Homo sapiens: one gene and its partner. The protein of the gene in region 1 interacts with the protein of each later gene in a pairwise test. Each region holds a gene or a part of one and is shown on either strand. Other genes may lie near its edges.

What was found.
Region 2: the proteins of ETV5 (region 1) and CYP3A5 interact in a two-hybrid assay, tested with the Homo sapiens proteins (one large-scale study listed by BioGRID and IntAct).

The regions. Positions count from the first base shown.
Region 1 is NC_000003.12:186,081,549-186,085,368, reverse strand, and holds part of ETV5 (ETS translocation variant 5), read left to right. Parts: intron 1-3,820. UniProt on the Homo sapiens protein: Binds to DNA sequences containing the consensus nucleotide core sequence 5'-GGAA.-3'.
Region 2 is NC_000007.14:99,677,007-99,681,520, reverse strand, and holds the start of CYP3A5 (cytochrome P450 3A5), read left to right. Parts: upstream 1-1,524; 5' UTR 1,525-1,624; coding exon 1,625-1,695; intron 1,696-4,514. UniProt on the Homo sapiens protein: A cytochrome P450 monooxygenase involved in the metabolism of steroid hormones and vitamins.

The DNA of each region.
Region 1 (3,820 bases):
TGGGGAGTGTAGGGTAAACATGAGGATACAGCCCTGAGAGCTGGAAAAAAGTATCCTTCTGTTGTCTTCTCCCGTATTGTCTTCCTTCTCTCTTTCCCTTTATCTTTTATTCTCTCTTTGATTGGTCTTTTTTCTCTCAGATTCCTTCTGGGAGCCAATATAATGAAAAGACTAAGAACTGCATAGGTAGGAATCCTGGCCACTGACCAGCTGTGAGACGTGGCAAGTGACTTTGAGCCTTTACGTGGCAAGTGACTTTGAGCCTTGTTTTCGTGTTCGTAAAATGAAGACAATGGAAGCATTAATAGCTTTCTCATTGAATTGGGAAGATTGAGTGAAATGATGTATGTAAGAGCAACTGGGCATAAAGGAAATGGTAAGGGGTCTGGCTGGCTGCCTCTTTCTTGGTCTGCCTTCTTTGTTCTTTTCCAGAGGTATTAGTTCTTCTCATCCATTTTTCCTTTGTTCTAGAGCATATTCTGTTAAACAGGTGTAAGTGGTATTTTTGTTTAGTTGAAAAAAAGGTTTATGCCTTCTATTTTTAATGTACAAAGTGAGCGAGTAGAGTATCTCCCATTTCTGTCAGTGTGGTAGAAGATGACTAAAATGACAGTGCGGAGGCCCTTGCCTCTTCTCCCCTCGAATAGCAGCACCCCTAAGCCCTTTAGTTCCATTGGGCCTCAGGATCCTTATCTATAAATGTGAGGGCTTGAATTCAGCATACTGAGGCCCTAATCTATCTCTGATTGCATCGTTGAGAAGATGCTAAAAGTCAGATGCCTCACTAAGTTATGCGGGCCAGCCATGTCTGTTTTGCTTAGCATCATAGGCCCCCGACATCCAGAATACCTGGCCCATCGAAGATACTCTGTGAATGAATGAATGAATGAATGAATGAATGAATGAAGACAGAAAGAAAGATCTTCATGACAAAGAAGGTAGTCCACATTCAGCAGGAATTATTTTCAGGGCACCACTGACTTTGTGGGCCCCTCTTCTACAATTCTGAGTTTAAACTCAAAGTTTCTAATTGCAGAAGATGTTTATTAGCTCAAATGTCAACTTTTTTTTTTTTTTTTTTTTTTTAGCATTTCTTTTCAAACTTCCTCAAGAGTTCATGATCCCTTTTCAATTCCAATTTGTTGCCATCCTTTATAGTCCTGGGTCTCTGTCATCATTTAGCAAGTCAGCTGTGCAAAGGTAAATACTATTTTTGAAAGCACAGGGTATAATTACACAACATCATAGCACCATCTGCAAGGTGCTGTGCCCTTTTCTTTATTTCTCAAGGCTGCATCACATACCTCATTTTACAAATGAAGAAACAGACTGAAAGCAAGGAGCATTCCTTGGCTTCTGAGTTCCTGCTTTAAATACACCACTATCTCTGACTAACACATGCCAGAATTAGGCTCCTTCACACATCCTCTAGTCCCACAGACCTTTGAGGAGCTGAGCCTTGTTCCTCACCACTCACAGGGCCCCTCATGGCTTTCCTGTCAGTGTAGATCTGTGAAACTTTCCATTCTTGTTCCTGCCATGTTTTGTCCTGCGGGGAAAGTATATGTAACTAACATTGTACCCAGCCTTGTAGGGTAGATGTGGTCCCTGCCTTCACGGTTAAGAACAAATTGGAAATATAATCCATTTGTTCACAAAAATACTTTTTGAACTCCCCCTTTGTATAAAGAATATACTATTCCACATATAAGACGTTTTGGGGTAGAAGGTACTATATAATTTAGAGCCAAAATGATGTGGTACACACTAAGTACTGTCTGGATTTGAAGAAATCAAGACATCAGAATTCGCTGGCAGCTTAGATCCTTTTAGATACGTGCAGTTCCTGAAACAAATACAAAGTGTTTCTGGGCAACTTTGGCATACCCTCTGGTGTTAGACTTGTCAGCAAAATTGGTAACTGTTATAATAATATTGTGACAATGTCAAGACACTTCTAAAACCTGAAATCAGACCATTCAATAATACCCTAATTGTTTTCTTTCCAAACTTAGGTAAAGTGGTGATTGCAAATGATTATCTTTAGATAAAGCAAGAAAAGTAGACGTTTCAAGGACATGTAGCTTTTGTTTAAATTGGGTCATCATTACCTTTCCTCATTATTTTGCCAAAACTTTTATAGCAGAAGACTGGTGAGAGGAAGGGCAGTGACCACGGGGCAGTGCTGAGAACTGCCAGACTATCTACTGTGTTGGAGGAAGGGATTTCTGTGTCAAATTCTCATTTACTAGCAACATTCAAACAAGCTTCGCTATTTTCTGTGTCTGAATATCTGAAACAGTTGATAACAATTGAGTGTTGGCTGCCATGATGTCACCATCAAAAAATCACGAGAGAAACTCTAATGACTTCTAAATATAATCTGCTAGTTCTCAACTTATTTTATGTATTCAGGAAAAGCAGTTGGCATTATATAAGAAAAGAATTATGAAAACCTGTCCTTTCCAGTCAGTCACTGGCAAGACTTTGCAGCAACATTGCTTTATAACCTTGTCATCTGTGATAGAGTCATCTGTCTCGTATTCAATCCTGAATTCAGAATTTGGGATTATAGAGGCACCTGAGAGGCCAGTTGGCTGGAAGATAGTTCAGCCTTATCAGATATTAATAGAAAAGAGATGATTGTTTAGGCCGAGTGCGGTGGCTCACGCCTGTAATCCCAGCACTTTGGGAGGCCAAGGTGGGTGGATCACAAAGTCATTAGTTCGAGACCAGCCTGGCCAACATGGTGAAACCCTGTCTTTACTAAAAATACAAAAATTAGCTGGGCATGGTGGCGGGCACCTGTAATCCCAGCTACTCGGCAGGCTGAGGCAGGAGAATCGTTTGAACCCAGGAGGCAGAGGTTGCAGTGATCACGCCATTGCACGCCAGCCTGGGCGACAGAGTAAGACTCCGTCTCAAAAAAAAAAAAAAAAAGAGAAAAGTGATGATTTGTTTAGCTAGTTCTACCTCGTATAATTACTAAGAAGTAACTCCTAAAGATGTTTTAGGAGTAAACATTGAGTCAAAATGAAAATGTTACTGGGTCACCAGACCACTGACTGTAGTTAGCTATTTAATGAGACCTTTGATACAGTGGCCAGTGGCCAGCATAGAAGCTTAACTTGCTCTCCTTCCCCACCTTCCAAGGTAGCTAGACAAGGAGTAACCATTCTAACTCAACTAGAAGGCAGCCCTTATAGCGCAAAATGCATCTTTCCACTTTGGATAAAATGCTGTCTCTGCAACAATTTAGCTCCTAGAGAAGACAGAAAAGGCAAACTCGGTTTTTTGTTCTTTGGGTTTATTTTGGCCACTACATGTAAATCACCTTGATTTGAAAAATTCTTGTTACTCTGCCCTCTCAGAATCCTATGTGGTATATGTAGTTGGCTTCCAAGCCAAAAGCAGTAGCTCCATGTATTTATTCCATGAATTCAGCAAAATTCACTGCACCATCTATGAAAGGACTGGTTACGCAAACCTACCCTTGCTGGTCGGTCACTGAGACAGGCCTGGAGCAGATGTTGTAAGCACAAAGGTAGCCAGGCTTTCTGCTTTCTGTATTCATTAGCCTTTCCTAGGTGGTGGATTGGTCTGTTGTTTTATTCCTTTGCTTTTAAAATTTTTGGAATGCCTCTAAAGTTGAGTATTTCTTGCTGAGAGCTGATATTTAAAGTTACTTGAGAAAGGACTTTTTAAAAATTCTATATTTAATTTGTAAATATGCATCTGAATAAGAAATATATTTGCCACAGCAATTTTAAGCCTTTGATAAGCTTAAATGTGTTGGTAATGTCTACCAACACATTTTTGG
Region 2 (4,514 bases), on another chromosome or scaffold:
ATCATCTTACCCCAGCTAAAATGGTTTTTATCCAAAAGACAGGCAACAACAAATGCCAGCGAGAATGTGGAGAAAAGGGAACCCTTGTACACTGTTGGTGTAAATTAGTGCAACCACTATAGAGAACAATTTGGAGGTTCCTCAAAACATTAAAATTAACATTAAATAGAGCTACCACAATATCCAGAAATCCCCATGCTGGGTATATACCTGGAAGAAAGGAAATCATATATTGAAGAGATAACATCACTCCAATATTCACAATAGCCACTATTCACAAATGCCAAGATTTGGAAGCAACCTAAGTGTCCATCAACAGATGAATGGATAAAGAAAGTACTCCAATTATACACAATGGAGCACAATTCAGCCATGAAAAAAGCATGAGATCCTGTTATCTGTAATAATATGGATGGAACTGGAGGTCATCATGTTAAGTGAAATAAGCCAGGCACAGAAACACAGATATTGCAAGTTCTCACATACTTGTGGGATCTACAAATCAAAACAACTGAGCTAATGTCTGGGCCTTAGTCAGTGTTGTACCCAAGTACTGGGAGCACAGCTTTTAAAATACATCATGAATGCTTTAATACAGGAATGAATAGATGAGAGGCACAAACTGGTTGGGTGTTCTTCTGATACACAGTATCTTCCTTGACAGATTCAGTACAACTCTCAACAGGTAAGTCTCTTCATGTTATGTTACCTTATGAGGAATTAAGTGGCAGAACATGATTTCTATTATTTTCCTTTGCAGAACAAGACCAACTTTATTAGTTGGGACACAGTGTGGCTGCATTTGAGTCCCAAGCAACCATTAGTCTATTGCTATCACCACAGAGTCAGAGGGGATGAGACGCCCAGCAATCTCACCCAAGACAACTCCACCAACATTCCTGGTTACCCACCATGTGTACAGTACCCTGCTAGGAACCAGGGTCATGAAAGTAAATAATACCAGACTGTGCCCTTGAGGAGCTCACCTCTGCTAAGGGAAACAGGCATAGAAACTTACAATGGTGGTAGAGAGAAAAGAGGACAATAGGACTGTGTGAGGGGGATAGGAGGCACCCAGAGGAGGAAATGGTTACATTTGTGTGAGGAGGTTGGTAAGGAAAAATTTTAGCAGAAGGGGTCTGTCTGGCTGGGCTTGGAAGGATACGTAGGAGTCATCTAGAGGGCACAGGTACACTCCAGGCAGAGGGAATTTCGTGGGTAAAGATGTGTAGGTGTGGCTTGTGAGGATGGATTTCAATTATTCTAGAATGAAGGCAGCCATGGAGGGGCAGGTGAGAGGAGGGTTAATAGATTTCATGCCAATGGCTCCACTTGAGTTTCTGATAAGAACCCAGAACCCTTGGACTCCCCGATAACACTGATTAAGCTTTTCATGATTCCTCATAGAACATGAACTCAAAAGAGGTCAGCAAAGGGGTGTGTGCGATTCTTTGCTATTGGCTGCAGCTATAGCCCTGCCTCCTTCTCCAGCACATAAATCTTTCAGCAGCTTGGCTGAAGACTGCTGTGCAGGGCAGGGAAGCTCCAGGCAAACAGCCCAGCAAACAGCAGCACTCAGCTAAAAGGAAGACTCACAGAACACAGTTGAAGAAGGAAAGTGGCGATGGACCTCATCCCAAATTTGGCGGTGGAAACCTGGCTTCTCCTGGCTGTCAGCCTGGTGCTCCTCTATCTGTGAGTAACTGTCCAAACTCCTCTCTTTGTTTCCTTGGACTTGGGGTGCTAATCGGGCCCCTTTTCCCTTATCTGTTTTGAAGATCAAAAGAGATGTTCAAGGAGAAGTAGCTGAAGTGTTGGACGCTACAAACGCATAGAAGTTATTATTATCTTATGCAGATCTATGAATGAATAAATAAGCATTTCTCCCATCCACCTTCTAATTTTGGTGACTAGGAGGGTTTAGGGACAGCATTTGGTAGTGGGAATGATTTGATTAGCTTAGATCTGACGAAGACTAATCAATGAAAACATGGCAGCGGCAGATTACAAACTGCTGATCATGATGGACAGTGTGATCCTCATCCCCTTCCCAGGCTCTGGGGATTCTGGGTACAGGAAGGAGTGGCTTGCATTTTTGTCTCATTAATTCGCTTTCTGGGTTCTGTGTCTGCTGGAAGGGATGTGTAGCTGTATTGCCCCTGTAGACCTGGTTCCTGCTCCCCCGCCTTCCAACCCAGGATATCATTTACATAACGCACCAGGGGACACCAAGACTTCATGGGAAGCTGTCCCCTGGCTCTTCCCTCTTTCCTGTGCCATGCCCCTGAAAATCCCCTCCCTCCTATGAGTCACTCCTCCACCCTGTCATACACAGGATGGTTTATCTTGCAATGATTAACCTCTAGAGCAAAGGAGACCTGGAGGAAGTTTCGAGGATTTATTCTTTGCTTTAATCTTTTTCCTCCCGTCTCTGGGAGGCTAGGATTAATATAGAGCTTTGTTTCTCACCTAATGGGAATCTACTAGCAGCCTGAAAAGGCAGGAGCCATGAAAGCCAATTTGGATTTTACATATTTTTCCCCTTTATGTTACAGTACAGGAGGGCAAACCCTCTCACTGGTGGGATTCCTGGCATCCTAGAGCAGGTGGAGAGAAGAGTTACTTTCCACTGTGGGTAGTGGAGGCTCCACCTGTCCCATTAACTTCTACCTCAATTTGACTTTTATTAAGAGCAGGGAACCACAATGACATGAAAATAGACACTATAAACCTCATTTTAATTCTTTCACAGAAAGCTTAGGAATTCAGTGAGTTGTGGCAACATGGTTTCCATTGTCTAACATTTTTAAATGAATTGATATGGTTTAAATTCATTCATTTTTAAACCAGAATTTTTTGGAGATAGACTATTTCCAGCATGTTCCTTCTGGATGGTAAAACAGGGCTGTTAGTTCAGTATTTGTGACAATAAGTGTGTGTAAAATAATGTCACCTTTCCTGAATGTCAGGAATATGAGTCTAATGCACAAATGTATACCTCTAAGACAAGACTGCACGTCTTTTCAAATATACCTGTCCGGCCATTTATTTTAATAACTCCTTTTCGAATATACCTGCTTAGCAGATTGTCTTAAACTCTCAGGACAGGGGAGTAAGCAAGACTGTGAGCCAGTGACGATAGCAAAGGCTTCCAGGTAGGATCCATATGAAGTGAGAAAATATTCCTCAGCTCTCAGGGTAGAACTCCAAAGAGATATTCATGGGTCCTGGCCCCACCGTGGAGGTCACTCAAAGGGCAAACAGGTTGGCATCTCATCTGCTTCAAGCCTGGACACAGGGGCACCATCTGTGTCACTCTGTGTGTGGTCTGCCATGTTGTGGGCCGGTCACTACAGACTCGGGCAGCCAGGCAGACAATGCCTTAGCCTTAGACAATGCTGGTGCAGCCCAGGAGTCAGAAAATGCAGTGTAGACCAGGCCCTCCTTAGGCCAACACAATTACATGCAATAGATGACTGGCTTTTCTGTTAGTCTCTTCACTGGACCCAAAGGCTGCATTACTCTACCAGAGGGGAGCTGGAAAGAAACTAAAGAGTTCGCCCAGCACAGCATCTGCCTTGACATGGTACCATGTGAATCTAGACACTCACCAAGATCTTTCCTTGGGGGCCAATGCTGCTGACACATTAACTCAATAGCTTGTCCTCACCTGAGAGGTCAGGTAATGTGTTTAAAGTTCAGGAGCAGAGATTAGTGTCATTGATTTGACATGGCTGTGACAACAAAGGAGGGAACTGAAGTGGGAATACCCAAGGCCACCCTGGCTTTGGCAGGTGGTGCACGCACTTCCACTAACTGTTCTGGGGCAGGGAACCAAATGTATGACTGGGCCTGCTCATGCTGCCCCTGCTGAGTCCTCCAAACCCTGCCCTTCATGTAATTTCTCAGTTTTATTTTATCACATTTTATAAGTCACTGGATGTTTACAAAATGTTTGGAACCTATACTGCCTTGAAGGCTAACCTCTAAAGAGGAGTAAACAAGGTCTTAATACAACTCTCCGGGACGTTTTATCATTACTTATCTTATATGCCATACTGCACCATTTGCTATCAACAGGAAAGTACCTGGACTTTGGAAGGTCCCTCTGTGTCTTTTAGCTGAAAGTACATATGAGGCATGTGGATTCTTTTATGCACATCATCTTTTTCAGCCACATTTTTGTAGTTTGCCTCTCTGGAGCCAACTGTGTGGGGCTAGCAGCTTCACAGCTGAATCAGTGTCTGGCAACCTCTTCCTTCAGCCTCTCTTCTTCCTCCAGTTTTCCATCCCTCAGTCACACCGGAGGGGGAAGGTCTGCAAGGATCCAGAACCATCAGTTGGAGGAGTTTGCACATGACTCATGAAAGATGAGTTCCAGGCAGGCCTGCCATAGTGAACACCAGGCTTAATGGGTTTTTCCTCAGAGATACTTCACGTACAGAGGCAGTGAACTGACTGCTTTCTGGTTGACCACCTTGAAAAAGATGAGTGTGCCTGGCACTGTGCTTCTC